3 linked regions of the Homo sapiens genome follow. The protein of the gene in region 2 interacts with the protein of the main gene of each other region in a pairwise test. Each region holds a gene or a part of one and is shown on either strand. Other genes may lie near its edges.

What was found. Proteins that work in one complex are often made in the same cells at the same time.
Region 1: the proteins of ANKRD46 (region 2) and SECTM1 interact in binary tests that used the Homo sapiens proteins (3 or more experiments, as listed by UniProt).
Region 3: the proteins of ANKRD46 (region 2) and BIK interact in binary tests that used the Homo sapiens proteins (3 or more experiments, as listed by UniProt).

What each region holds. Positions count from the first base shown.
Region 1 is NC_000017.11:82,330,707-82,338,985, forward strand, and holds the start of SECTM1 (secreted and transmembrane protein 1 precursor), read right to left. Parts: upstream 3,061-8,279; 5' UTR 2,994-3,060; intron 1-2,993. UniProt on the Homo sapiens protein: May be involved in thymocyte signaling.
Region 2 is NC_000008.11:100,528,353-100,535,811, forward strand, and holds part of ANKRD46 (ankyrin repeat domain-containing protein 46), read right to left. Parts: intron 4,960-7,459; 5' UTR 4,857-4,959; intron 4,109-4,856; exon of another isoform or gene 4,004-4,108; intron 1,509-4,003; 5' UTR 1,482-1,508; coding exon 1,171-1,481; intron 1-1,170.
Region 3 is NC_000022.11:43,113,351-43,120,809, reverse strand, and holds part of BIK (bcl-2-interacting killer), read right to left. Parts: intron 1-7,459.

The DNA of each region.
Region 1 (8,279 bases), on a different chromosome or scaffold from region 2:
GCTGCTCCTAGATGCCTCTGCCACCGAGGGTGGACCCTGCAGTGCTGGCTCCTAGCCTCCCTGCCGATTGCTTCCTGAAGACCTGGGGCCCTGGGCTGCAGTGGTTGGGGAGAGGGGGGTGGGAGTGAGAAGCTGGCACTGTCCGTCTTTCTGGCCTCATCCTCTCCATGGTCTCAGCCCCTGGCGGCCTGGACTGCACCGTTCCGGAGATGCTGCCTCCCCACCAAGTCCCTTTAGCCCAACTGTGGTGGCGGCCGCTGCTTCTCACACGCGGGTCCTCTCACTGCCTCTCCCCGGTCCTCCCTTCCTCCCAGCACCTTCACCAGCTCCCCACTGAGTGCCCTCCAATGTTGGCGACCCTGACCCTTGTCCAGCCAGGGGTGAAGGGCGGCAAGGGATGGGCTGGAGGGTACTAGGAGCAGGTGGCGGTGCCCTTCCTGTCGGTCCACACCCGGCAAGTGGCGGGAAAGGTGTGGAATGAGTCAGCCGTGGAGGGGAGCCCTGGGCCTGGAAGACCCCTGTCTTTGGCTTGAGAATGACTTTGAAGGGCTCAGGGGGTAGGGAGCTGGGGGGAGACCGGGAGGAGAGCGGCAGGTCTGGCTCTACCCCGAGGCTTCAGGCTGCGGACCATGCGTGGCCCCAGCTCTGTCTGGGCAGCAGGTGTCAGCGACTTTGGGTTGCTGTGGGAATTTGCTCCGTTTATCAGAAGAAAACGCACCCTGGCAACACAGGCCCCTCTCAGGTCACCAGGCACATCTGGTCACATCTGAGTCTCAGATAAACAACCAATGATGTCCTGGTGAAAGCTTGTCCCGTGGGACACTCGGGACACACTTATATTAAAACACGATTAACGATCTCAAACTCAGATGTTACTGGGTATCCTGCGTTTTTGTTGGCAGCTCTGCCACTCTGCCCGTCTGCCTGAGTCCTCTCCTGCCATCCTCCTGACCAGAGGCGTGGGCTTGAGTTGAATGCCACGCAGTGGCTAAAAATCAGAGAGAGGGCAGGCGGCAGGGCGCGGCCCCAGGGAAAGTGGCCAGGTGGGCGGTGACTGGCCGGGCAGCTCCGTGTGTGGCACAGGGAGACCTGGCACAGGGAGACCAGGTACAGGGAGACGAGGCGCACGGAGCCTCAAAACTTCTAGAGTGGGCCGGGCGCGGTGGCGCATGCCTGCAATCCCAGCACTTTGGGAGGCTGAGGCAGGTGGATCACCTGAGGTCGGGAGTTTGAGACCAGTCTGAACAACGTGGTGAAACCCCGTCTCTACTAAAAATACAAAAAAATTAGCCGGGCGTGGTGGTGCACGCCTGTAATCCCAGTTACTTGGGAGGCTGAGGCAGGAGAATCGCTTGAACCAGGGAGGTGGAGGTTGTGGTGAGCCAAGATCTGGCCACTACATTCCAGCCTGGGCAACAAGAGCGAAACTCCGTCTCAAACCAAACAAAACAAAAAACAAACTTCTAGAGCGGGAAAAGATGGAGGCGGCAATCAGATTTCTCTCAAACCACGAACACAGGGGTCGGTATCTGAGGCGCCGGCACCAGACACGGCAGGGTCTGAGTGCTCCCTGACAAGCGATGATGCGCAGGCTTGGAGCCATGCCAGTGACACGCCTAGGAAAGTTCACGCACCGCCCAGCACGCCTGCGCATGCCTGTTCCCGCTCCCTGGTGCCCCGGGCGCCTGCCTGTCCCGGCTCCCATGGGTGCTGGGTGTGTGGAAGCTCCGGCCCCCTCGGGCTGGGTTCATTGGGGTCCTCCTGTGTGGTCAGTGGACTCTGTACCCCCACAGCACCTGAGGGGTGGCTGACACTGCTTTCCCAGCTGCTGCAGGGGCTCAGGGAACACAGGTGACCCCACGTCTCTACCGAGAATGAGCACACCAACACCTCTCAGAAGACAGCTGCAGCCTGCAGAGGCCATGGACCCCACCCAGGCCCACGGTGTGGACGGCTCTGCCCTGGTCTCTGCTGAGCCAGGCCCAGAGGGGACCCCAGGTGAGCAGCAAAGCCCCCCAGGCCTGGGGCTAGACCGGGCTAACCCTTCCTGCTCAGCACCTGTTCACCTGTCCCCTCTGCTGGTGGCCTCCTGTCCTCCCGCTCTGGGCTCAGCAGCAGCCCCGTGGAGAGGCCCTGCCACCACCCCCGCCCTGCTGGAGACAGGCCTCCTACGCGGGCTCCTGCAGCCGGTCGCCCTGGGCCTCCTAGAAGCCGGGGATCCTCTGCTGACCACCGGCAGAAAACGTGCTTCTCAAGCTGCAGGTGATTCACCAGTAGTGGGCAAGGAACTGAATGTGGTGATTACTGCGGAGTCAGCAAAACCCGCGTGAGAACGGGCAGCTGAGGGCCTGCCGGGTGAGGGAAGCCTCACGGTTCCTGTTTCATGAGTTTGCTGTGAGTGCACACGAGGCTGTGGCTGTGGAGTGTGCAACAGTCCACGCGTGCCTGCGTGTGCTCATGTGCGTGTGTCCACCAGCTTGTGTGCACGCATATGAGCGAGTGCGTTTTGCTCCCAGCTTGGTCGCAGCGACGGCGCAGGGAACCCCGGGTGAGGCCGAGGACCGGGAAGGGAGGAGGGGGCTCCGACCCATCGGACTTAGGGGAGCCCCGGGTCCGAGACGCCGCCTCTGTCCCTTCAAGAGTCGAGCCTGGCGCACAGGGCAGGGACGCGGGTCCCCACACCGGCCGGCAGCTCGTTCCCGCCCATACTCGGGTACGCCCGCTGCGACCCCGCCCGCCTGGCCTGCGACGCACGCTCAGGGCCAGCGGGGGGTGACGGTCCCAGAGGCAGAGGCGCCGCAGCCCCAGAGTCCCCATCCCTGCGCGGACCGGCAACCCCAGTGCACCAAGAGGCCCTAACACCGAGCCCCCAGCACCGAGTCCCCAGCACCGGGCCCTCAGCACCGAGTCCCCAGCACCGAGTCCCCAGCACCGAGTCCCCAGCACCGAGCCCGCCCCTCTGGTTCCCCCGCCCGCCCCTCTCCGCGCCTCACCGGGTCCGCTCCTGGACGCGCTCCTCTGGGATGCAGCTTCTCCGCGCCCCGGAGCCCCAGGAAAATGAAAGACACGAGAGGGAGGGGCCAGGGAGGAGGCGGCGGACCCGCGCGGGACCCACCTCCCAGATGAGGAAGGAGCTGGGTTTACGGGAAGCCTCCAAGTTTCGGGAACCACCCGCGTTCACAACAAGCGTGACGGTGAATTTATTATTTTCACGGGAGGCACCGCACCCGCGGTTCACGCTAAAGGAAGCAGGAAAGCCGCCGGGAGCATTTTTCCAGGAGAGTTCGTGCCTGGGCGGGTCCAGCTCGCGTGCGGCGCGCGTTCCCCGCGGGGCTGTTTGGCTCCGCTCCTGGAGGCCTCGAGTCTGTGCACGGGGCGAGCTGGGCGGGCCGAGTGGGCCGCGGGGAGGGAGGGCGGGGGGCGGCCCCCAGATGCCTGGGAGTGCGCGGGCAGAGTGAGCTGGACCCCCGGAGGGTCAGAGGCCCTTTCATAAAAGCGCGCAGAGCAGAGGAGTGATGTCCCCCAGCTCCCCCGCAGAGGGTCCTGCACCTGCGGCCTGGGCCTTCAGGCGTCCTGCGGCCCCTGCGGAGGTGCTGGCCTGGCCAGCCCGGGAGGAGGGGCCCAGCCTGTTGGGGCAGGAGATTGGGGTGCGGGTAGAAGGCTCCAAGACGCATCCGGGCCGGGAACCCACAGACATCCCAGGTGGGCAGGAGGTGGCTCGAGGAGGCCTGGAGGACCCGGCGCCTGGCGGGGTGGCAGGCGGGCCACGTCCTCCACTAGAACCCGAGGGGGCACGCGGGCAGGTGCGGGCGGGGTCAAGGATGACCAGGTATCTTCGGGACACTAGGAGGAGGCCCCACAGGCTGCAGTCACGTGAGTGGGCAAGTCCCCACCGGGCAGATGATGGGGGACACTGGGGCGTGGGCAATGCCCCCAGTTTCATGGAAGAGAGGAAGAAGCAGAACCAAACTCCGGGAAACCCTCAAATGTGGGGAATGGACGGAGCAGGGCCAGACTGGACGCTGAACCTTGGAGCCTGCAGCTCAGCCATCAGACCCAGGGTCCAGAGGTGGGTGGCACAGAACAAAGTCCCCCGGGATGTTCCAAAAGAGAAACTGTCGCCAAATTGGCAGGTGAAACACAGCCTGTCATCCTCCCAGCAAGACGGCACCATGGCCGGGGCACAGAGGTCAGATTCCCCAGCCCCCGCCCTCGGGGAAACCCCAGCCACCCTGGCTGCCAGTGAGATGCTGGAGAGGGGGCTGAAATCCCACCTGCCCACGTCCTCTGCACAGAGGGGCTTGTCCCCGAGGCCACATCCCCCAGCAGCCACAGCTTCCTTCTCCTTTTTTCCTGCCTACTAGATCTCTCAACTCAGAGGGGGCTGCAGTTCCTGGGGGCAGGGGGGTCCGGCTGCTTAGGCAGGAGCACCTGCACCGTGAGGCTCTGGAGGGCAGCTGAAGGCTGGCAGGCTTTTGTCCCGTGAGGGGACACCACTGGGGGTTGGAGGAAAACGCATATCCTGATAAAGCATTTCATGTTGTGAAAGTGAAACTAGTTTGTTTATTTTGGAAGTAATACAGGCACAGAAACAAAATAGAATGAAACCAACTGTTGCCTTTTCCTCCCCACCCTGGCTTCAATTCCCAGGTTGAGTTATGGACACTGCCTTACCTATCCTTCTAGAAGTTTTCCTGGTCCATACAAACAGCACAGCCATCCACTCACGTTTATTTCTTTCTTTTTTTTGAGACGGAGTCTCTGTTGCCCAGGCTGGAGTGCAGTGCTGCAGTCTCGATCACTGCAACCTCTGCCTCCCAGGTTCAACTGATTCTCCCACCTCAGCCTTCTGAGTAGTTGGGATTGCAGGCATGTATCACCACGCCCAGCTAATTTTTGTAGTTTTAGTAGAAATAGGATTTCATCATGTTGGCCAAGCTGGTCTCGAACTCCTGACCTCAGGTGGTCCGCCTGCCTTGGCCTCCCAAAGTGCTGGGGTTACAGGTGTGAGCCACCACATCTGGGCAGTATCTTTCCATTTCTTTTTTTTGTTTTGAGACGGAGTCTCGCTCTGTCGCCCAGGCTGGAGTGCAGTGGCGCAATCTCGGCTCACTGCAAGCTCTGCCTCCTGGGTTCACACCATTCTCCTGCCTCAGCCTCCTGAGTAGCTGGGACTACAGGCGCCCGCCACCACGCCCAGCTAATTTTTCTGTATTTTTAGTAGAGACGGGGTTTCACCGTGTTAGCCAGGATGGTCTGGATCTCCTGACCTTGTGATCCGCCCATCTTGGCCTCCCAAAGTGCTGGATTACAGGCGTGAGCCACTGCACCCGGCCGTATCTTTCCATTTCTATACAATGCTGGGATCAGGCATCTTAGAGCGGATGTGTGGATTCATTCACCCTCAGCCTGTCCTTGAATCACAGCCTCTGCTGTGCCAGGTGACATGTGGAGTTTCATTTCCTTTCTGTTCGAGGAATTTGTAGATTTCAGTTATGATTTTCTGTTTAACTCTCCAAATTATTCGGCAGCATATTCTTAAAATCCCCAAGGTCCTGGAGCATTTGCTTTTCTTTTTTTTGGAGACAGAGTCTTGCTCTGTCGCCCAGGCTGGAGTGCAGTGGTGCGATTTCGGCTCACTGCAACCTCCGCCTCCCTAGTTCAAGCGATTCTCCTACCTCAGCCTCCTGAGTAGCTGGAACTACAGGCACGTGCCGCCACGCCCAGCTTTTATTTATTTATTTATTTTATTTTTGGTAGAGACGGGTTTCACTATGTTAGCCAGGCTTTTTTTTTCTTGAACTCCTGAGCTCAGGCAATCCACCCGCCTCGGCCTCCCAAAGTGCTGGGATTACAGGCGTGAGCCACTGTGCTGGCGGCATTTGCTTTTCTTTGTAACTTGATTCTCTGGGTTCCCTTGCCTTTCATCCTTGCCCACCCACGTGACTGCAGCCTGTGGGGCTTCCTCCTAATGTCCCGAAGATAACTCGTCATCCTTGACCCCGCCGCCACCTCGGGTTCTAGTGGAGGATGTGGCCCGCCTGCCACCCCCACAGGCACCGGGTCCTCCAGGCCTCCTTGACCCACTTCCAACCCACCTGGGATGTCTGCGCGTTACCAGCCCAGATGCCTCTTGGAGCCTTCCACCTGCACCCCATCTCCTGTCCCAACAGGCTGGGCCCCTCCTCCCGGGCTGGCCAAGCCAGTACCTCCGCAGGGGCCGCAGGTGCAGCACCCTCTGTGGGGGAGCTAGGGGGATCGCTCCTCTGCTCTGCGCACTTTTATGAAAGGGCCTCTGACCCTCCCACTGTCCTGCTCACTCTGCCCGCGCACCCCCGGCCACCTGGGGGCCGCCCCCCAAAGCCCTCGGCCCGTGGACAGACTCGCAGCCTCCTGGGAGCCGAGCCAACCGGCCCCACAGATTTGTGCATGACTCAGTTGTACCCACTGCTCACTGGCTGGAAGGGTCTCACGGGTCCTTCCAACATGTAATATTCTCTGACTGTTGGGAGCAAGGGTCTCTGCAGGTGTCCCTCCTGTCAAGGTGTCAGTGGGGTAGGTTAGGTCTTTTATATACTTGTCAATTTTTTTTTTTTAAGACGGAGTCTCGCTCTGTCGCCCAGGCTGGAGTGCAGTGGCACGATCTCAGCTCACTGCAAGCTCCGCCTCTCGGGTTCACGCCATTCTCCTGCCTCAGCCTCCCCAGCAGCTGGGACTACAGGCGCCCGCCACCACGCCCAGCTAATTTTTTGTATTTTTATATACTTGTCAATTTGTATGGGCTTGAGCTATCAGTAATTAAGAGAGATAGGTTGGAATGGCCTCCTATGGTGGGGGCTTAGCAGCCTCTTCTTGTGGTTCTAGGAATTTTTAATCATATATTTGGAGGCTTTTTTTTTTTAAGAGATGGGGTCTCCTGTAGTTGACCAGGCTGGCTTGCAGTGGCTGTTCACTGGCAGGATCGTAGCTCAATGTACCCTGACCTTCTGGGCTCAAGCGATCCTCCAGCCTCAGCTTTCTGAGTAGCTGGCACCACAGGCAGGCACCACAGATAAAAAGTCTAAAATGTTTGCTTCAGTCTTTGTCGTTTTGTTGCTCTTGTTCTTGTCTTGTGCTAACCTAATTCTAATTTATCTATTTTATAATATTCGGAAGTTTTAAAATATGAGGCTAATTTTAAATTCTTACCCAGCATGTGTTTCTGCTTTTGGTGGAATCCACAACCCAGCTTGTTATTTTCCACCTGAAAAGGCTGTGCTCCTCGAACATCCAGTTATGTTGCCCTGAGCCCCTTCACTTGCCAATCTTCTTGGTATTTCTTTTGGGATTTCACTGTCTTTATAGCTTCACTTTATTTTAATTCTATTTATTTATTTATTTGGGGGGGATGGAGTCTCACTATGTTGCCCAGGCTGGAGTGCAATGGCACGATCTCACCTCACGCAACCTCCACCACCCGGGTTCAAGTAATTCTCCTGCCTCAATCTCCCTAGTAGCTGAGATTAGAGGCGTGCACCTGGCTAATTTTTGTATTTTTAGTAGAGACGGGGTTTTGCCGTGTTGGCCAGGCTGGTCTCTAACTCCTGACCTCATAATCTACCCACCTTGGCCTCCCAAAGTGCTGGGATTACAGGCGTGAGCCACCGTGCCCAGCTGTTATAGCTTAATTTTAGAAAGAATGGCATTTTTAGGGCTGGGTGCGATGGCTCATGCCTGTAATCCTAGCACTCTGGGAGGCTGAAGTGAGACAATCTCTTGAGGCCAGGAATTTGAGACCAGCTTGGACAACACAGTGAGACCCATCTTCACAAAAATAAAATAATGAGCCGGGCGTGGTGGCCAGTGCCTGTAGCCCCAGCTACTTGGGAGGCTGAGGTAGGAGGATCTCTTGAGCCTGGGAGGTCGAGGCTGCATTGAACCGAGATCAGGCCACTGCACTGTAGCCTGAGCAACAGAGCGAGACCCTGCCTCAAAGAGAGAGAGAGAGAGAGAGAAAGAGAGAAAGAGAAAATACTTTTAATAGTAATCCTTCCTAGCCAATGAGATAGGAATGCTGGGTGGTCATAGGAGAAATGAGAAATATCAAACAGTAATCTTGCAGAAAAGCAAGAAAGCAGCTGTTAGAATGAGCCACAGAAAGCAACTGTTAGAATGAGCCACGGAAAGCAGCTGTTAGAATGAGCCATGGAAAGCAGCTGTTAGAATGAGCCACGGAAAGCAGCTGTTAGAATGAGCCACAAAGGCAGGGATGAGCCCGGACTGATGAGACCCTCGACCCC
Region 2 (7,459 bases):
TAGCCGTGTGCCTCTATTTTTTTCTGAATTGTACTATAGAAAGTGTTTATGAAGAACAAATCACCAAGGGGAAAAAAAGGATGGGTCCAGTTTAACTCAAAAGTAAAACCCAGAGCTGAGCCAAACATCCAGTGTAGCTGAATTTTGAATTAACCCTTGTTTTTCTTTTTTTTTTTTTTTTTACTTCCAGGGAAAAGAAAAAAGAGAACATATAGTCAAAAAAGTGGATAAATCTAGTTCTAGATTCATTCTTATTTGATATTTACATTTTATGAGACAAGTACTTTTTTTAAAAAAGTCTAAGAAAAAAATGTCAAATAAGCTGCTTCGGTTCACGCAGCTATTTAGCGCTAATAATAGGTTAGAACCCCAATCACATTAAATCCTGCAGTCAATTCCTACCCCATTTTGTCCTGCAGAAACAAAAGCATTTACTGTCTTATTCAGATTTAGGGGCATTATGGCATCAATAAATTAGGGCAGTGTGTAACTGTAATTTAAAGGTCAAGCTCAGTTTTACAGGTGACTTGACATCGTTCCCACTCAAAAAGCAGAGTATCACTAAAACAAACAAAAAGCCCCATGACTTCCTCAAATTGTTCAGTCTAAAAAGGATCCTGGACTCCCGGGAGATTATGAAGCTCACATGGTGCGTTACATGACAGAAGGCACACAAGCGTTAGAGTCAGCGGAACTAGGTTCAAATTCCAGCTCTGTCCCTTATAAGCTGTGACCTTTTCAAATCCTCTATAAACTGTGTGAACTTTGTCCAATCCTTTTTTGTCTTCACTATCTAATCTGTAAAATGAAAACACCTATTGTGAGAGCTCTTCATTCTGAGGACTAAATGAGCTAACAAGTAAACACAGTCTAGCTCATAGATTTTCAACAAATGTTCTTTTCTTCTTCTTCCCTTGTTGTAACACTACATAATTAGTAGCAGAAACTACCTACTATTTTCATAGAAAAAAATATGCTGCTTTAGCAAAAATCTAGAAGTCAGCCCCTCATTCCCTCACTTGCCTAACAGGATTACACTGTCTTCAATGCTTTCTGAACTTATTTCAACTGATTAATGAGGAAACAAAACCAACAGACCCAAGATAAGATTATCAGTTGAGAGATTAATGGGAAGAAATGACTAGACTTCTAAAACAACAGAGAACTTACCAAATATCAATTTTGAGTCCATTGGAAACCAAAAATTGGATAGTATCCACATGGCCACAGAGGTGAAGAGCTGTGTTTCCTTGATAATCTGTGGCCAGAAGATCGGCACCGAATTTATGCAGTAACTGGCAGATGTCTACATTCCCTCGAGCTGCTGCAAGGTGAAGGCCTGTTCTGCCCCTGCTGTCACGAATATTTGGGTCAAAGCCACTTTCCAAAAGCCGCTTGGAATAATTAAAGTCCCCATCAATACAGGCTTGCAGCAAGGGCACGTTAGTCTGAGAAGAATCATTTACAAAAACATACGACATTGTTCTGATGTGGTGGATGGAACACGCCTGTAATGAAATAGGTGAGTGAGATTCCATGAAGACAAATGAAATCAAGACAAAGGAGTCATTTAGAAAAGCAATATTTCTCATCCTTTTTGGCCTCCTGCCTCTAATAAATAAATGACCAAACAGAAACAACAACAAAGTTATCAATTGTATTTTATTTTCCATTAAAACATTTTATTTTCTTCACATCTGCTGGATTAAAATTCCAATTCAATTACTGTAAAGCTCTATTTTGCTTTTCACCATGTAAAAAGATTAAGAGATATTTTTAAAGTTAAGCAAGACATAATAGCTTAGATTTAAGTATTACATTGTCAGAACACATAGATAACATGGTGTTTAAACATCAAAGAACTACCCATATATAAATGCTACTGCTGGTAGACATTCTTATTTAATACAAACTAATTCTCTTTGATATATTTGCTTCTTCTTGTATTTGAGATATTCTACATGGTAACTAAAACTACTTGCATGAAAAGAACTTATACTCAACAAAGACCTGTAGAGTGTTATGTTTATAGCACAATTTTTTTTTTTTGAGATGGTGTCTCGCTCTATTGCCCAGGCTGGAGTGCAGTGGCGCGGTCTTGGCTCACTGCAACCTCCATCTCCCGAGTTCAAGCGATTCTCCTGCCTCAGCCTCCCAAGTAGCTGGAATTACAGGTGTCTGCCACCATGCTCAGCTAATTTTTTGTATTTTTAGTAGAGACGGGGTTTCACCATGTTGGCCAGGCTGGTCTTGAACTCCTGACCTCATGATCCGCCTGCCTTGGCCTTGCAAAAAGTGCTGGGACTACAGGCGTGAGCCACCGCGCCTGGCCTATAGCACAAATTTTAAGAGAAAGGCTAAGGAATGTAACAAACTGAATTTAAAAATCAGAGCATGAAATCAATTCAGATTATGCTTTTTCCACTATTGATCTTATTCTGCTGTGCTCTGTGGTTATCTCAATATGTGACTGTGCCAAATTCCCACCGTCCAAAGACTGAGAGATGAGGGGAAAAAAAAGTAGGGCTGTCTGGGAATACCAAGTCAGGACAAAGCAGCAATCCCAACTAGGTCTGATGTGAATTTCATCTCTTGGACTCATCCAGCTCACCAGTTTGCCCACATCTCTTTCACAGATGTTTCCTGGCCCCACTGGCGCACCTGAACTCAGGTGAGAGTTCAGCATCTGCCTGGTGCACCTGAACTCTCAGGACATTTTGCTCTACCAAACTGCATACAACTAGGTCTCTCTCTCTTCCCCTAGGTTCATTTAAGAAAGAGTTAAAGCCTGTCAAAAGAAACTTCGCTAGGAAATTGACGAGAAAACAAACAAGAAAACAGAAAGGCAGAGACCAATGCTTTTCTAGAGATGGCTTTTTTATTCTTAGGTTACAAAAGCTTAGTCACATATGGACTTGGCTTATACAGCTGATCAGGTAAAGTCTCTTTCTGAAACACTGATGGAACTGGACGCTAGACCCATCTATTCTTGTGCCTAACCTCAAGGGGATTCAGGGAAGCCTGGCTGCTGAGTTTGGTGAGATTGCTGCCCCTATTCCTTTCAACTTGGCTTCTCAGCAGAGCCATTGTCCCAAAATCTGGGGCTGCCTTACACAAGGGCTCTGCTGCTACCATGGGCTCTCTGTGGAAAGAGTGGGCATTAACATACACTGAGACTTGTTCTGAGCCAGGTACCAACTAGGAGCTTTTAATGAATTTAATTTAATCTTCCTAACAACTCCACAGTTAGGCTTTTTTATACCTGAATTTCAGTGAGGAGCCACTGAAGGATTTTTTTTGTTTTAAATTGAGACAGGTTCTTGCTCTGTCACCCAGGCTGGAGTGCGGTGGTACAATCATGGCTCACTGCAGCCTCAAACTCCTGGGTTCAAGCAATCCTCCCACATCAGCCTCCTAAATAGCTGGGACTACTATTTCAATGAGTCCAGCCCACTGAAGAATTTTAAGTCAAAGAAATGGCACAGTCTTATTAGTCTTTCAGAAAGATGACTTGGATGGCAATATGGAGGCACTGGATTGTAGAGACAAAGACTGGAGGCAGGGAGATCAATCATTAGGTCATTGCAGCTATCTAGGCAAGAAATGAAAACCTGACCTAAGGCAGTGGCAGGCAGAAGGGGACGCACTGGAGAGGAACAGAGAAGACAGAATTAGCACAACTTAATGACTCACTGGATATGAAATGAAGGGTGAAAAGGGGCTGTTAAGAATAATTTCAAATACGAAAAAAAGTTTATGATTAAAAACTACAGAGATTAAAATCAAAATAAACTTCAGATTATGATACATATGATGACTTTTTAAAAATCTGGCTGGACACAGTGGCTCACACCTGTAATCCCAGTACTTTGGAAGGCCAAAATGGGAGGATAGCTTGAAGCCCAGGAGTTCGAAACTAGCCTGGGCAACATAGCGAGAGACCCTGTCTCTATAAAATATTTTAAAATTAGCCAGGCATGGTGGCGCGCGCCTTTCGTCCCACCTGTTCGGGACGCTGAGGTGAGAGGATCACTTGAGCCCGGGAGGTCGAGGTTGCGATGAGCTGTGATTGAGCCACAGCACTCCAGCCTGGGCATCAAAGTGAGGCCTGTCTCAAAAAAACAAACCAAACCAAACCAAACCAAACCAACAAACAGAAAAACTCAATGAGAAGAATTTACTCAATAAAATAGTCAAGAATTCTTTTGCGAGGGTAATCTAAATATTTTCCCTTACAGCAAGGGTGTCCAACATTTCGGCTTCCCTGGGTCACAATGGAAGAAGAATTGTCTTGGGCTACACATAAAATACATAATGATAGCTGATAAGCTTTAAAAAATTGCAAAAAAAATCTCAGAATGTTTTTTAAAAGTTTATGAATTTGTGTTGGGCTACATTCAAAGCTGTTCTGGGCTGCAGGTTGGACAAGCTTGCACAGTATTGAATCATAAAAATGGAAAAGCTATCATAAACCTTTTTCAAAATGAAATGCCACATATCAAGTGCTTTTCAAAAGGTAATGTGTTTTGGTTAAATTTTTAAAAATAGATAATTTAAAAAATCTAGTTGGTGTTTTTGATTCAGACACAGTAAGAATTCTTGTGGTTTGCAGACTAGGATACTTCTGAGTGTTGGCTCAGCAAGAAATACAAGTCTCTGTGTCTATTTTTCAGGTGAGAACAAGTGTGTATTTTGTCAGTTTCTCTGTGTCCCTGAGCAACTACTAAACTTAATCCCACATTTAATAAGCCCAATGATAGTTATTTTTCATCTTGATCACAGAACTGAATCTGTCCTAAAGCAGTTCACTGAAGGTTTCACATCTTGTGAGGAAGTCCACAGTAGTAAATACTCACGTAAGCCTTAAGATTAGATCTTTTCGTTCAGTGGTCACTCAGCAGTTTCTCTGAATTCTCAAGAAGGTTCAACAAAAATATTCTGTAATGTGCTGGCAAGGATCTACAGTAAATAGAAAATTAAGTTATAATAGAAGTGTGGTGAGAAAAAGAACTCACTGTTCTATTAAATACAGACAGGTTACTGAGCCTGAAGAAATTCTCTAGAAAATCTGTAGGTGAGGCATCAACTTGTGAGGCCAGAAAAATATCTGACGAGTAACAAAGTAGTGAAAAGGAAGCAAAGAAGGGCTTAATAGAAGCTGCTCTGTGGCCCACAAACAAGAAAGCAAGACAGAAAGATAAAAGAATAAGAATCAAATTATGTGCCATCACTAAAGAACAAATTGGGCTCCGAAAATTCACTCTCAGTCATTACTTGGAATTCAGAATGCATATTTTTCACATTATAAATGGAGGCTAGATCCCAGATTAGTCCACAAAAGCATTTTTATAAATAAAATACTATTCATAGTGGGAAAAAATAAGTTTAAAAAGCCAATACTTATATTTAAACCAAACAGGATACATTTAAGAAAAAGTATTTCTAATCTACCTTGAATGCTGGTACTTAAATCTCTTTAAATCTGTTCCCTTCCTTGTCTTTTCAGTGTGAAATAAAAGCTGGCCCAAGTCTATCTGTAGTCTTCTTTACATAGCCTGACGCTGCTCCCCCACCCAGGCTGCACTTCTCTGCACTGAGAGAGACTACGAGGGCACCCTGTCTGCCCACTCAGCTCTTCTCTGGAAGGACCGTGGAAGCAGGGTCATGGGCAGGCAGTAAGGACCACAAAAATAGCAATATTAGTTCATGAAACAAACATTCACTGTGTGCCTGCAATGTGCCAGATACCATGCTATCAAGTCCAAATCCCAAATTCCTGGTCAGGGTGAAATACAGGTTAACTTTTTACCGATCATCCTTGTTCATTGTTATCAAATCCCTGTGAACAAATTTATATAGGGAAATAATTAATGGTATTTTACAAAGCTCCATTTACAATATGTAAGTCAGGTTGTATCATAAAGGCTATCAGTGCTAGGCTGGAACTGATGACAATAGCTGACAAACTGTACCTGAGGACCAGTCCCACACGAGGGTCAGTAAATATCACGAAGACATGATAACACACAAAACATCTACGCTCCTCATTTCCTACTTCTTTTGTGATACCACAGTATCAATTTAGACGAACTTCATATCACGGAGCCACTTACCTTGATTTCCTTAAACAAATATTATGTATTCACCCAAAGCCTAATATTTTTCCTCTCTTGTCCTGACCTCTAGAGCTGAGTCTTTAACGACTAGAGCCTGTCTCTAATGTATGATTTGGCTTTAATTTTCAATGTTAATTAAAATGGTGCAAGTGGGTTATTCTGGATGTGGTAGAGCTCACATTAGGGAAAAAGAAAAAATTTTGTTTTTCATCTAGAGATGGAATTATAGTTCATATGGTCATGCCCCCAAATAATCCTAATGTTCTCTTAAATCCACAAGAAGGACAATGCTTCTGCAATTTTTTCTTTTTTTATTTTTGAGACAGAGTCTCACTCTGTCGCTGGTGCCGGAGTGCAGTGGTGCAATCTCGACTCACCTGCAGAGGCCTCCGCGTTCAAGCAATTATCCTGCCTCAGCCTCCCCAGTAGCTGGGACTACAGCCATGTGCCACCATGCCTGGGTAATTTTTGTATTTTTAGTGGAGATGAGGTTTCACCATGTTGGCTAGGCAGGTCTTGAACTCCTGACCTCAGGTGATCCACCCACCTTGGCCTCCCAAAGTGCTGGGATTACAGGCGTGAGCCACCGCAACCAGCCTGCCATTTTCTTTGGATATTACAATGGCCCATAAGAAAATACACTTGAACAAATTACAGATTTGTATGATTTCATAATAATATTATACAAATTCATTAGACTAAATTACTAGAAACCTGCCAAGAAAACTTCCAAGACCTCAGTTAGACCTTACTCACTAGACTCTGTTAATAGCTTCCCTAAGAAGTCATAAAGTGAATACAAATCAGAGCACATATTTAACGATTGTCCAATGGGTGAAGAGGACTAAAGACTTTTTTAAATTAAACTTTTTGAGATAATTATAAATTCATATGCAGTTGTAAGAAATAACACAGAGTGATCCTGTGCACCCTTTATCCAGTTTCCCCCAATGGTAACATCTTGCCAAACTATAGTACAACATCACAACCAGGATACTGACATTGATATAGTCAAGATACAGAACATTTCCATCACCATGAAAAATCTCTCATATGTTGCCCTTTTTAGCTATTCCTGCTTCCCTCCCATGCCAGTCTCTCCTTAACACCTAGAAAACACTACCTAGTCTTCCACTTCTTTAATTCTGTCATTTCAAGAATGTTGTATAAATGGAGCCATACAGCACATACAGGAACCTTTTGGGATTGGTCTTTTCACTCAGTATAATTCTCTGGAGATTCATCCAGGGTAGCTGTGTGTATCCATAGTTTGTCCCTTTTTTATCCATAGTAGTATTCCGTGGCATGGGTGTACCACAATATAACAGTTCATCTACTGAAGG
Region 3 (7,459 bases), on a different chromosome or scaffold from region 2:
TGATATGAATGGCAAAGATCCCATCACCAACTGGGCCTAGGCTGGCCTTAGGGCCCAGATCTGCATGGGAAAAGTGTGGAGCCAGGGAGCGGAAGGTGGGGAGCCTGCCCAGGAGGGTCCTTGCAGCAGCGACCTCCTGCTCTGGTCTCTCCTGGCCACCCCACCAGCCCAAGGGAGGCCCAGTCCTGTCAGCTCCTACCTGGCACCAGCTCTGAATGCCTTACTGGTCTCCAGCCTTCAGTGGAGCTCTCTCCAACCTAATCTCAAGGTAGCAGCCTCAACCCTGACCCTGTCACTGCTCTGTTCGGCTCCCTAGACCTGGCCTGGTGCAGTGCGGCTCACGCCTGTAATCCCAGCACTTTGAGAGGTGGAGGCAGGTGGATCACCTGAGCTTAGGAGTTTGAGACTAGCCTGGCTAACATGGTGAAACGCCATCTCCACTAAAAATACAAAAATTAACCAGGTGTGGTGGCGCTCGCCTATAATCCCAGCTACTTGGGAGGCTGAGGCAGGAGAATCACTTGAATCCAGGAGGCAGAATATGCAGTGAGCCGAGACCGCGCCATTGCACTCCAACCTGGGTGACAGAGCAAGACTTGTCTCAAAAACAAGTGGGGGGTTGTGCCACATCCACTAACAGGCCCTCCCCCTGTGGCCCTGCCACCCCAATCTTGGTTCCCGCGCTAACCACACTCAAGTATGCTTTCCATGGATGGTGCCTGGTCCTGCCATGCCTCCAAAGTCTTCAAATGTGCAGAGCTCACCAGCCAACCTCAGACCGGCCCATGCCTACGCCTATTGGTCCTTTTTTAAAAATTAAATTTTATTATTATTTTTTTCACAGACAGGGTCTCACCCGTTTGCCCAGGCTGGAGTGCAGTGGCCTGATCATGCTCACTACAGCCTCAAACTCCTGGGCTCAGGTAATCATCCCACCTCAGCCTCCAGGGTAACTCGACAGGTATGTACCACTGCACTTGGCTCATTTTTATAGAATTGCTGTAGAGATAGGGTCTTGCTTTGTTGCCCAGGCTTGTCTCGGAACTCCTGGCTTCAACTCCCGCCTGGGCCTCCCAAAGTACTGAGAGGATGGGTATGAGGCTGGCCTATTCGGGCATCACCTTCTTGGACCCTCAGAGTCTGCTTGGGGGCCTCCTGGGGGTCCTGCAGCCCCTGTCTCTGCTCCCCTCTGGCTCCAGCTGACCACTGCACTCCAGGCTGGGCTACAGGGCAAGACTCCATATCAGAAAAAAAAAAAATTAGAATGGAGATACTAGTAACACCTATTGCACAGGACTGTTGTGGGGATGAAATGATCCGGCACAGAGTAAACCGCTAAGAGAGGGGCTGCTGCTCTTATCAGTTTCTGGTTGTCAGCCCAAGGCCTGGCATAGAGCAGACATATGTTTGTTGACTGAAGACATGAAGGCAACCTATTCCCAGAGGACCCACTGTGAGGTCACTGCAGCTGCAGATACAGGAAACTGGACTGGTTTTTATTATCTTTTTTTTTCCAGCAAACTTGCAAATGAGTAGTTGAAACCCTTCTTTGGTGAAGGAAGACACACCTAGCCATGTGTCCCCACCCAGGCTACAGCCCGCACTTAGCCTCCTACACACTCACCAGTGGAAACACCAGGCGCCAGTCAGAAGCCCTATTTTACCCTAAGAGGTTAGGATGCAAATCTAGTATGTGCAGAAAAGAGTACCACACCCACGGCCTTGAGGGCACCTGCAGGGCTCCGAGTGGGAGGGAGGGCAGGTTCTGGACAGAGCAGCCTACATTTGGTGAACAGCTCTGCACTCGACAGCTCGCCTATGGCTCATCTGGAAGATGGGGAAACGCCATCTACCTCCCAAGCCCCTCCCAGGTTGCCCAGAAGCACAAGCAAGTAGAGATGTGTTCTGCTCAGCCCTCAGCAGGTGTTCGAGGGCCGAGGCTGCAGGAGTGTCAGAGCGGGGTTGGGGGCAGAGGTGGATGGGGCTGGACCTGAGGATGAGGTCGAACTCCTGGTAGGGACCCTCAGACTCTCATGACCTCGCCCAGTCCTGTCAAAGCCAAGCAGGCGGGATCTGACACTTCCTGTTTCACAGGCAGGCAAACCGAGAGGGTCAGGGGCCACGCTGGGGTCACAGGGAGGGCCAGCTGAGTGGGCCCAGCTAGAAAACCCTGGTCCAGTCTTCCACGTGCCACCCTCCCAGTCACAGCCTGGCCCTGGACCATGAGGGTGGGGTGGCACAAAGCCCTTGGAGCGCACACAACTCCAGTGTAACCCAGCAGGAAACGCCCTGAGCCTGCAGCCAGGCTGGACCTCAGTTCCACCCCCTGCTCGGCCCCTGCTGTGTGAGGCAGAACAACCAGCTCACCTCTGAGCCTTGCAGAAACAGCCGGGCCTCCAGGGCTGCTGAGAGGATGAAAACATACACTACTGCCCATTTTCCACCACCTAGCAGGGGCTCCATAAAAGCTGGTTAACACAATCAACAGCCTTAGAAGAGAGGAGACCAGAGGCCACTCACAGCTCAGGACGCCACGGTGGACTGAACATGTTGCTGCCTTTCTGGAGGGTAGTGTGACCATCAGCATCCACCAGTCACACACGCACATGACCTTTGATTTCTAGGGATGCATCCCACACACACCCCTGCATGGACCTGGCAGCCTTGAAAAATTGAAGCCATAGATCACAGGCACCGCTGTGCTGTCATCACAGCCCTTCGGGAGGCCGAGGCGGGCACGTCGCACGAGCCCAGTTCAAGACCAGCCTGGGCAATACAACGAGACCCCCTCTCTAAAAATAAATTAACAATAAAAAATTTTAAAAATATATGAAATGGGCCAGCCGCGGTGGCTTACACCTGTAATCCCAGCACTTTGGGAGGCCAAGGTGGGCAGATCATGAGGTCAGGAGTTCAAGACCAGCCTGACTAACATGGTAATAAAACTCCGTCTCTACCCCGTTTCAAAAAAAATTAGCCAGGTGTGGTGGTGCGCGCCTGTAATCCAGCTACTCGGGTGGCTGAGGCAGGAGAATCGCTTGAACCTGGGAGGAGGAGTTTGCAGTGAGCCGAGATCACACCATTACACTCCAACCTGGGCGACAAGAGCGAAAAACTCCATCTCAAAAAAAAAAAATATGGGCCGGGCGCGGTGGCTCACGCCTGTAATCCCAGCACTTTGGGAGGTTGAGGCGTGCAGATCACAAGGTCAGGAGATGGAGAGCATCCTGGCTAACACAGTGAAACCCTGTCTCTACTAAAAATACAAAAAAAATTAGCTGGGCGTGGTGGCGGGCGCCTGTAGTCCCAGCTACTCGGGAGGCTGAGGCAGGAGAATGGCTTGAACCCTGGAGGCAGAGCTTTCAGTAAGCCGAGATCATGCCACCACACTCCGGTCTGGGCGACAGAGTGAGACTGTCTCAAAAAAAAAAAAGAAAAAGAAAAAAAAAAATCCGTAGTATGTACCTTGTTTCCTCAAGTTTCAAGAAAAAAAAAAGACAGCTCACTTTTTTCTCTTTAAACACTGATGTGTAGCTAGTAACTTGGATAAAAAGGTGCCACCCTACAAAATGTGCTCAGCGTGTTCTGATTCCAGGATGGGCTTGGCTGCCTGGGCTGGGCCTGGGAGACCTCCGTCCGTCACAGTGGAAACTGAAGCCAAGTGCCAGTGCCGCATCCGGCTTCAAGATCTAGAATCAGAGCCTTTGAAATGGAAAAGGGGCATCTGAAACGGCACCCCCACCTGCGGCTTTCAGAGCTAAGGCTCCAGAATGAAGGGGTCACCTGGCTAGTGACAAGATGGGAGTCACCCTGAGCTGCAGCTCCCCCCAAGATTCCCCTGTGAGAGGCCCAATATGGAGTATTACTATTTTGAGACAGGGTCTCTCTGTCACCCAGGCTGGAGTGCAGTGGCATGAACATGGCTCACTGTAGTCTCCACCTCCCTGGGCTCAGGTGATCTTTCCACCTCAACTTCCCAAGTACCTGGGACTACAGGTGCACGCCACCACACCTGGCTAATTTTGTATTTTTAGTAAAGACGGGGTTTCACCAGGCCGGGCACGGTGGCTTACGCCTGTAATCCCAGCACTTTGGGAGGCCGAGGCGGGCGGATCACGAGGTCAGGAGATCGAAACCATTCTGGCTAACACGGTGAAACTCTGTCTCTACTAAAAATACAAAAATTAGCCGGGCGTGGGGGTGGGCGCCTGTAATCCCAGCTACTCGGGAGGCTGAGGCAGGAGAATCACTTGAACCTGGGAGGCAGAGGTTGTAGTGAGCCGAGATTATGCCATTACACTCCAGCCTGGGTGACAAGAACAAAACTGTCTCAAAAAAAAAAAAATGCATTTAATACATGTAACCTACCCAACGTCACAGCTTAGCCTTTTGGAGGCTCCCAGCACTTTAAGAGCACAAGGCGAAAGGATCACTTGAGCCCAGGAGGTTGAGGCTGCAGTGAGCTGTGACTGCGCCACTGCACTCCAGCCTGGGCGACAGAGTGAGACCCTGTATCAATAAGTTAGGGGAGGAGATTTTATTCTATGTCCTTTCCTGTTCGAACACCTATAAAAATAATCCTAACCGTAGAGGAAGTCTAACAGACTAATAATTCTCTTGACTGATTTTGAAATGACCCCAAAAAGGGGAAGCCTGTGCCTTTTTATCACCATGAAGGAAGCAGAGAATGCCAAGCCACCACCTGGGCCTACAGTTGTTAAGTTTCAAAAGTTCATATTTAAAACAAGTTCTGGGCCGGGGCGCGGTGGCTCCCTCCTGTAATCCCAGCACTTTGGGAGGTCAAGGCAGATGGATCAACTAAGGTCAGGAGTTCAAGACCCCCCGGTCAACATGGTGAAACAGTGTCTCTACTAAAAATACCAAAGTTAGCCGGGCGTGGTGGCGGGCACCTGTAGTCCAAGCTACTCGGGAGACTAAGGCAGGAGAATCACTTAAACCTGAGAGGCAGAGGTTGCAGTGAGCCAAGATCGTGCCACCGCACTCTAACCTGGGCAACAGAGCAAGACTCAATCAAAAATAAAAAATAGGCCAGACGCGGTGGCTCACACCTATAATCCTAGCACTTTGGGAGGTTGAGGCAGGTGGATCAACTGAGGTCAGGAGTTCACAACCATCCTGGCCAACATGGCGAAACCTCATCTCTACTAAAAATACAAAAACTAGCCAGGCGTGGTGGCGCACGCCTGTAATCCCAGCTACTAGGGAGGCTGAGGAAGGAGAATCACTTGAACCCAGGAGGTGGAGGTTGCAGTGAGCCGAGATCGCGCCACTGCACTCCAGCCCCCGCGACAGGAGTAAGGCTCCATCTCAAAAAAAAAATAAAACAAGTTCTGAAATGCTGAGGCTGAAGAATATGAAGACTGCTCACCCTGGCCCCGACCCTGAGGCTTGAGAGGCAGGTACGGCCCCTGGGCTCCACTTCAGTGTTTGGGTCTCCCCTATGAACTTGCACCCAGCCCTTTCACACCCCAGCTCCTCCTTTACATCCTCCCTCTGTTACCAACATCCCCCAGGCAGGCACGGGGGACTCACTGCTTCCTTGGGGCTCAGGCACAAGTCACTTCCTCCCCACCCTCCCCAGGACAGAATTAAATGCTCCTCATCTGTGTTGTCCCAGCACCTTGGGTAAACAGACCTGGATTGGGCACTCAGCCCATCAAGGTCTCGTTAAATGTTTACCTGTGTGTCTGCCCCAGCCAGTCGGGAACCTGCATGGCCCCAGAACAGAGCAGGGACCCAGTGAAAGCCGGTGAGAGGATGCAGACAGCCTGAGAGTTCACTGCAAAATCCTGAGAATGAGGGAAGGGGTTACTCTGGTGCTGGGCTCACGATGGCAGGCTGTTCCTGGCTGGGAGACCCTGGACTGGACAGTATCACCTTCTGTTAAAGGGCAGGAGGGAAAGCCCCATGGGCAGATGTAGCCCTGAGAAGGAGGTGAAATGCTGCATGCATGGTATGCAGTAAGTGCCCACTAAGAGGCAGCTCTCATTCTGTGAGCCTGTTGCTCTGCGAGGCGCACACCCGTGCTGACCACCTCACGGTCCGAGCTCGGATTTATCTTCATGATGCGCCATTGTCTGCACAGGGAATTTCAGCTCCTCCTGGAATCAGGTAGCTCTCTTTGCCCTCACATGAAAGGGAGCCTCTAATCTCGAAGATACTGTCACACACAATAAATGTCATCTCTTGGCCAGGCACGGTGGCTCGCACCTGTAATCCCAGCACTTTGGGAGGCTGAGGCGGGCGGATCACAAGGTCAGGAGTTCAAGACCAACCTGGCCAACGTGGTGAAACCCCATCTCTATTAAAAATACAAAAATTAGCCTGGTGTGGTGGCACGCGCCTGTAATCTCAGCTACTCGGGAGGCTGAGGCAGGAGAATCACCTGAACCCGGGAGGCAGAGGTTGCAGTGAGCTGAGATCACACCACTGCACTCCAGCCTGGGCAACAGAGCAAGACTCCATCTCGGGGAGGGGGCGGTCAAGAATACTTGATCTTAAATATCCAAAATGACAGGGACCCTCACTCAAATAAACAAGTGAGCTTTTCTCTCTTTGCTGCATGGCTTTTCAGTTTGGCTAACTGGGTGCCAAGTTCTGTCCCACCCCCAGAAAAACAGGTTTACCATGCAGTGCCTGGCGAGGCCCAGTGGTGTTTTGTATTGTCACATCCTAATATTGACACTAGGAAAATCAGCTGCCCTGTGTGCCCGCCCCTCTCCTGCCTGCCTCGGGGCCAACAAGGAACTTAGGGGCCACGGACTGATTTGCTCACATTCTATGTTTCTCCCAGGGCCCAGCCCCAACCAACCAGTGGCAGGACAAAGGGAGGCTAGGAAGTGGCCACATGTGTCCAGTTCAGACACACTGCTGGCTTCCTGGTGACCACCAACAGTAAGACTGGTGCGGAGACTTCCTCCATACGGCTCAAACTGTTCTGAGCACAGACGGTAGTCAAAATCTCATGGGATCCGCTAAGTCTGCAGCAGGGGAAGCAAAAAGCCATTAATTGTCTACACATTTAATAGGTTCACTAAAAACAGGATGCTTTCCAGGGAGAGGGGAAAATACCACCAGCAGTGGTGTCAGCTTCAAGACTCACTGGCCAATCAAGCCCTTCCTCAATTACATCCTTCCGTTGAGACGGGATCAGAAATGGGGGAAAAAAAAAGTACACGGTTATGAGTAGTCTCTGGTTTATCTGCAGCTCTGTGACACAAGACGTAATTTTTTTTTTTTTGAGATGGAGTCTCACGTTAGCCCAGGCTGAGTGCAGTGGCACCATCTCTGCTCACTGCAATCTCCGCCTCCTGGGTTCAAGCAATTCTCCCGCCTTAGCCTCCCAAAGTGCTGGGATTACAGGCAAGTCAAATGTGTAAGAATCTTGAGCCGGGTGAGGTGGCTCACGCCTGTATTCCCAGCCATTGCACTCCAGCCT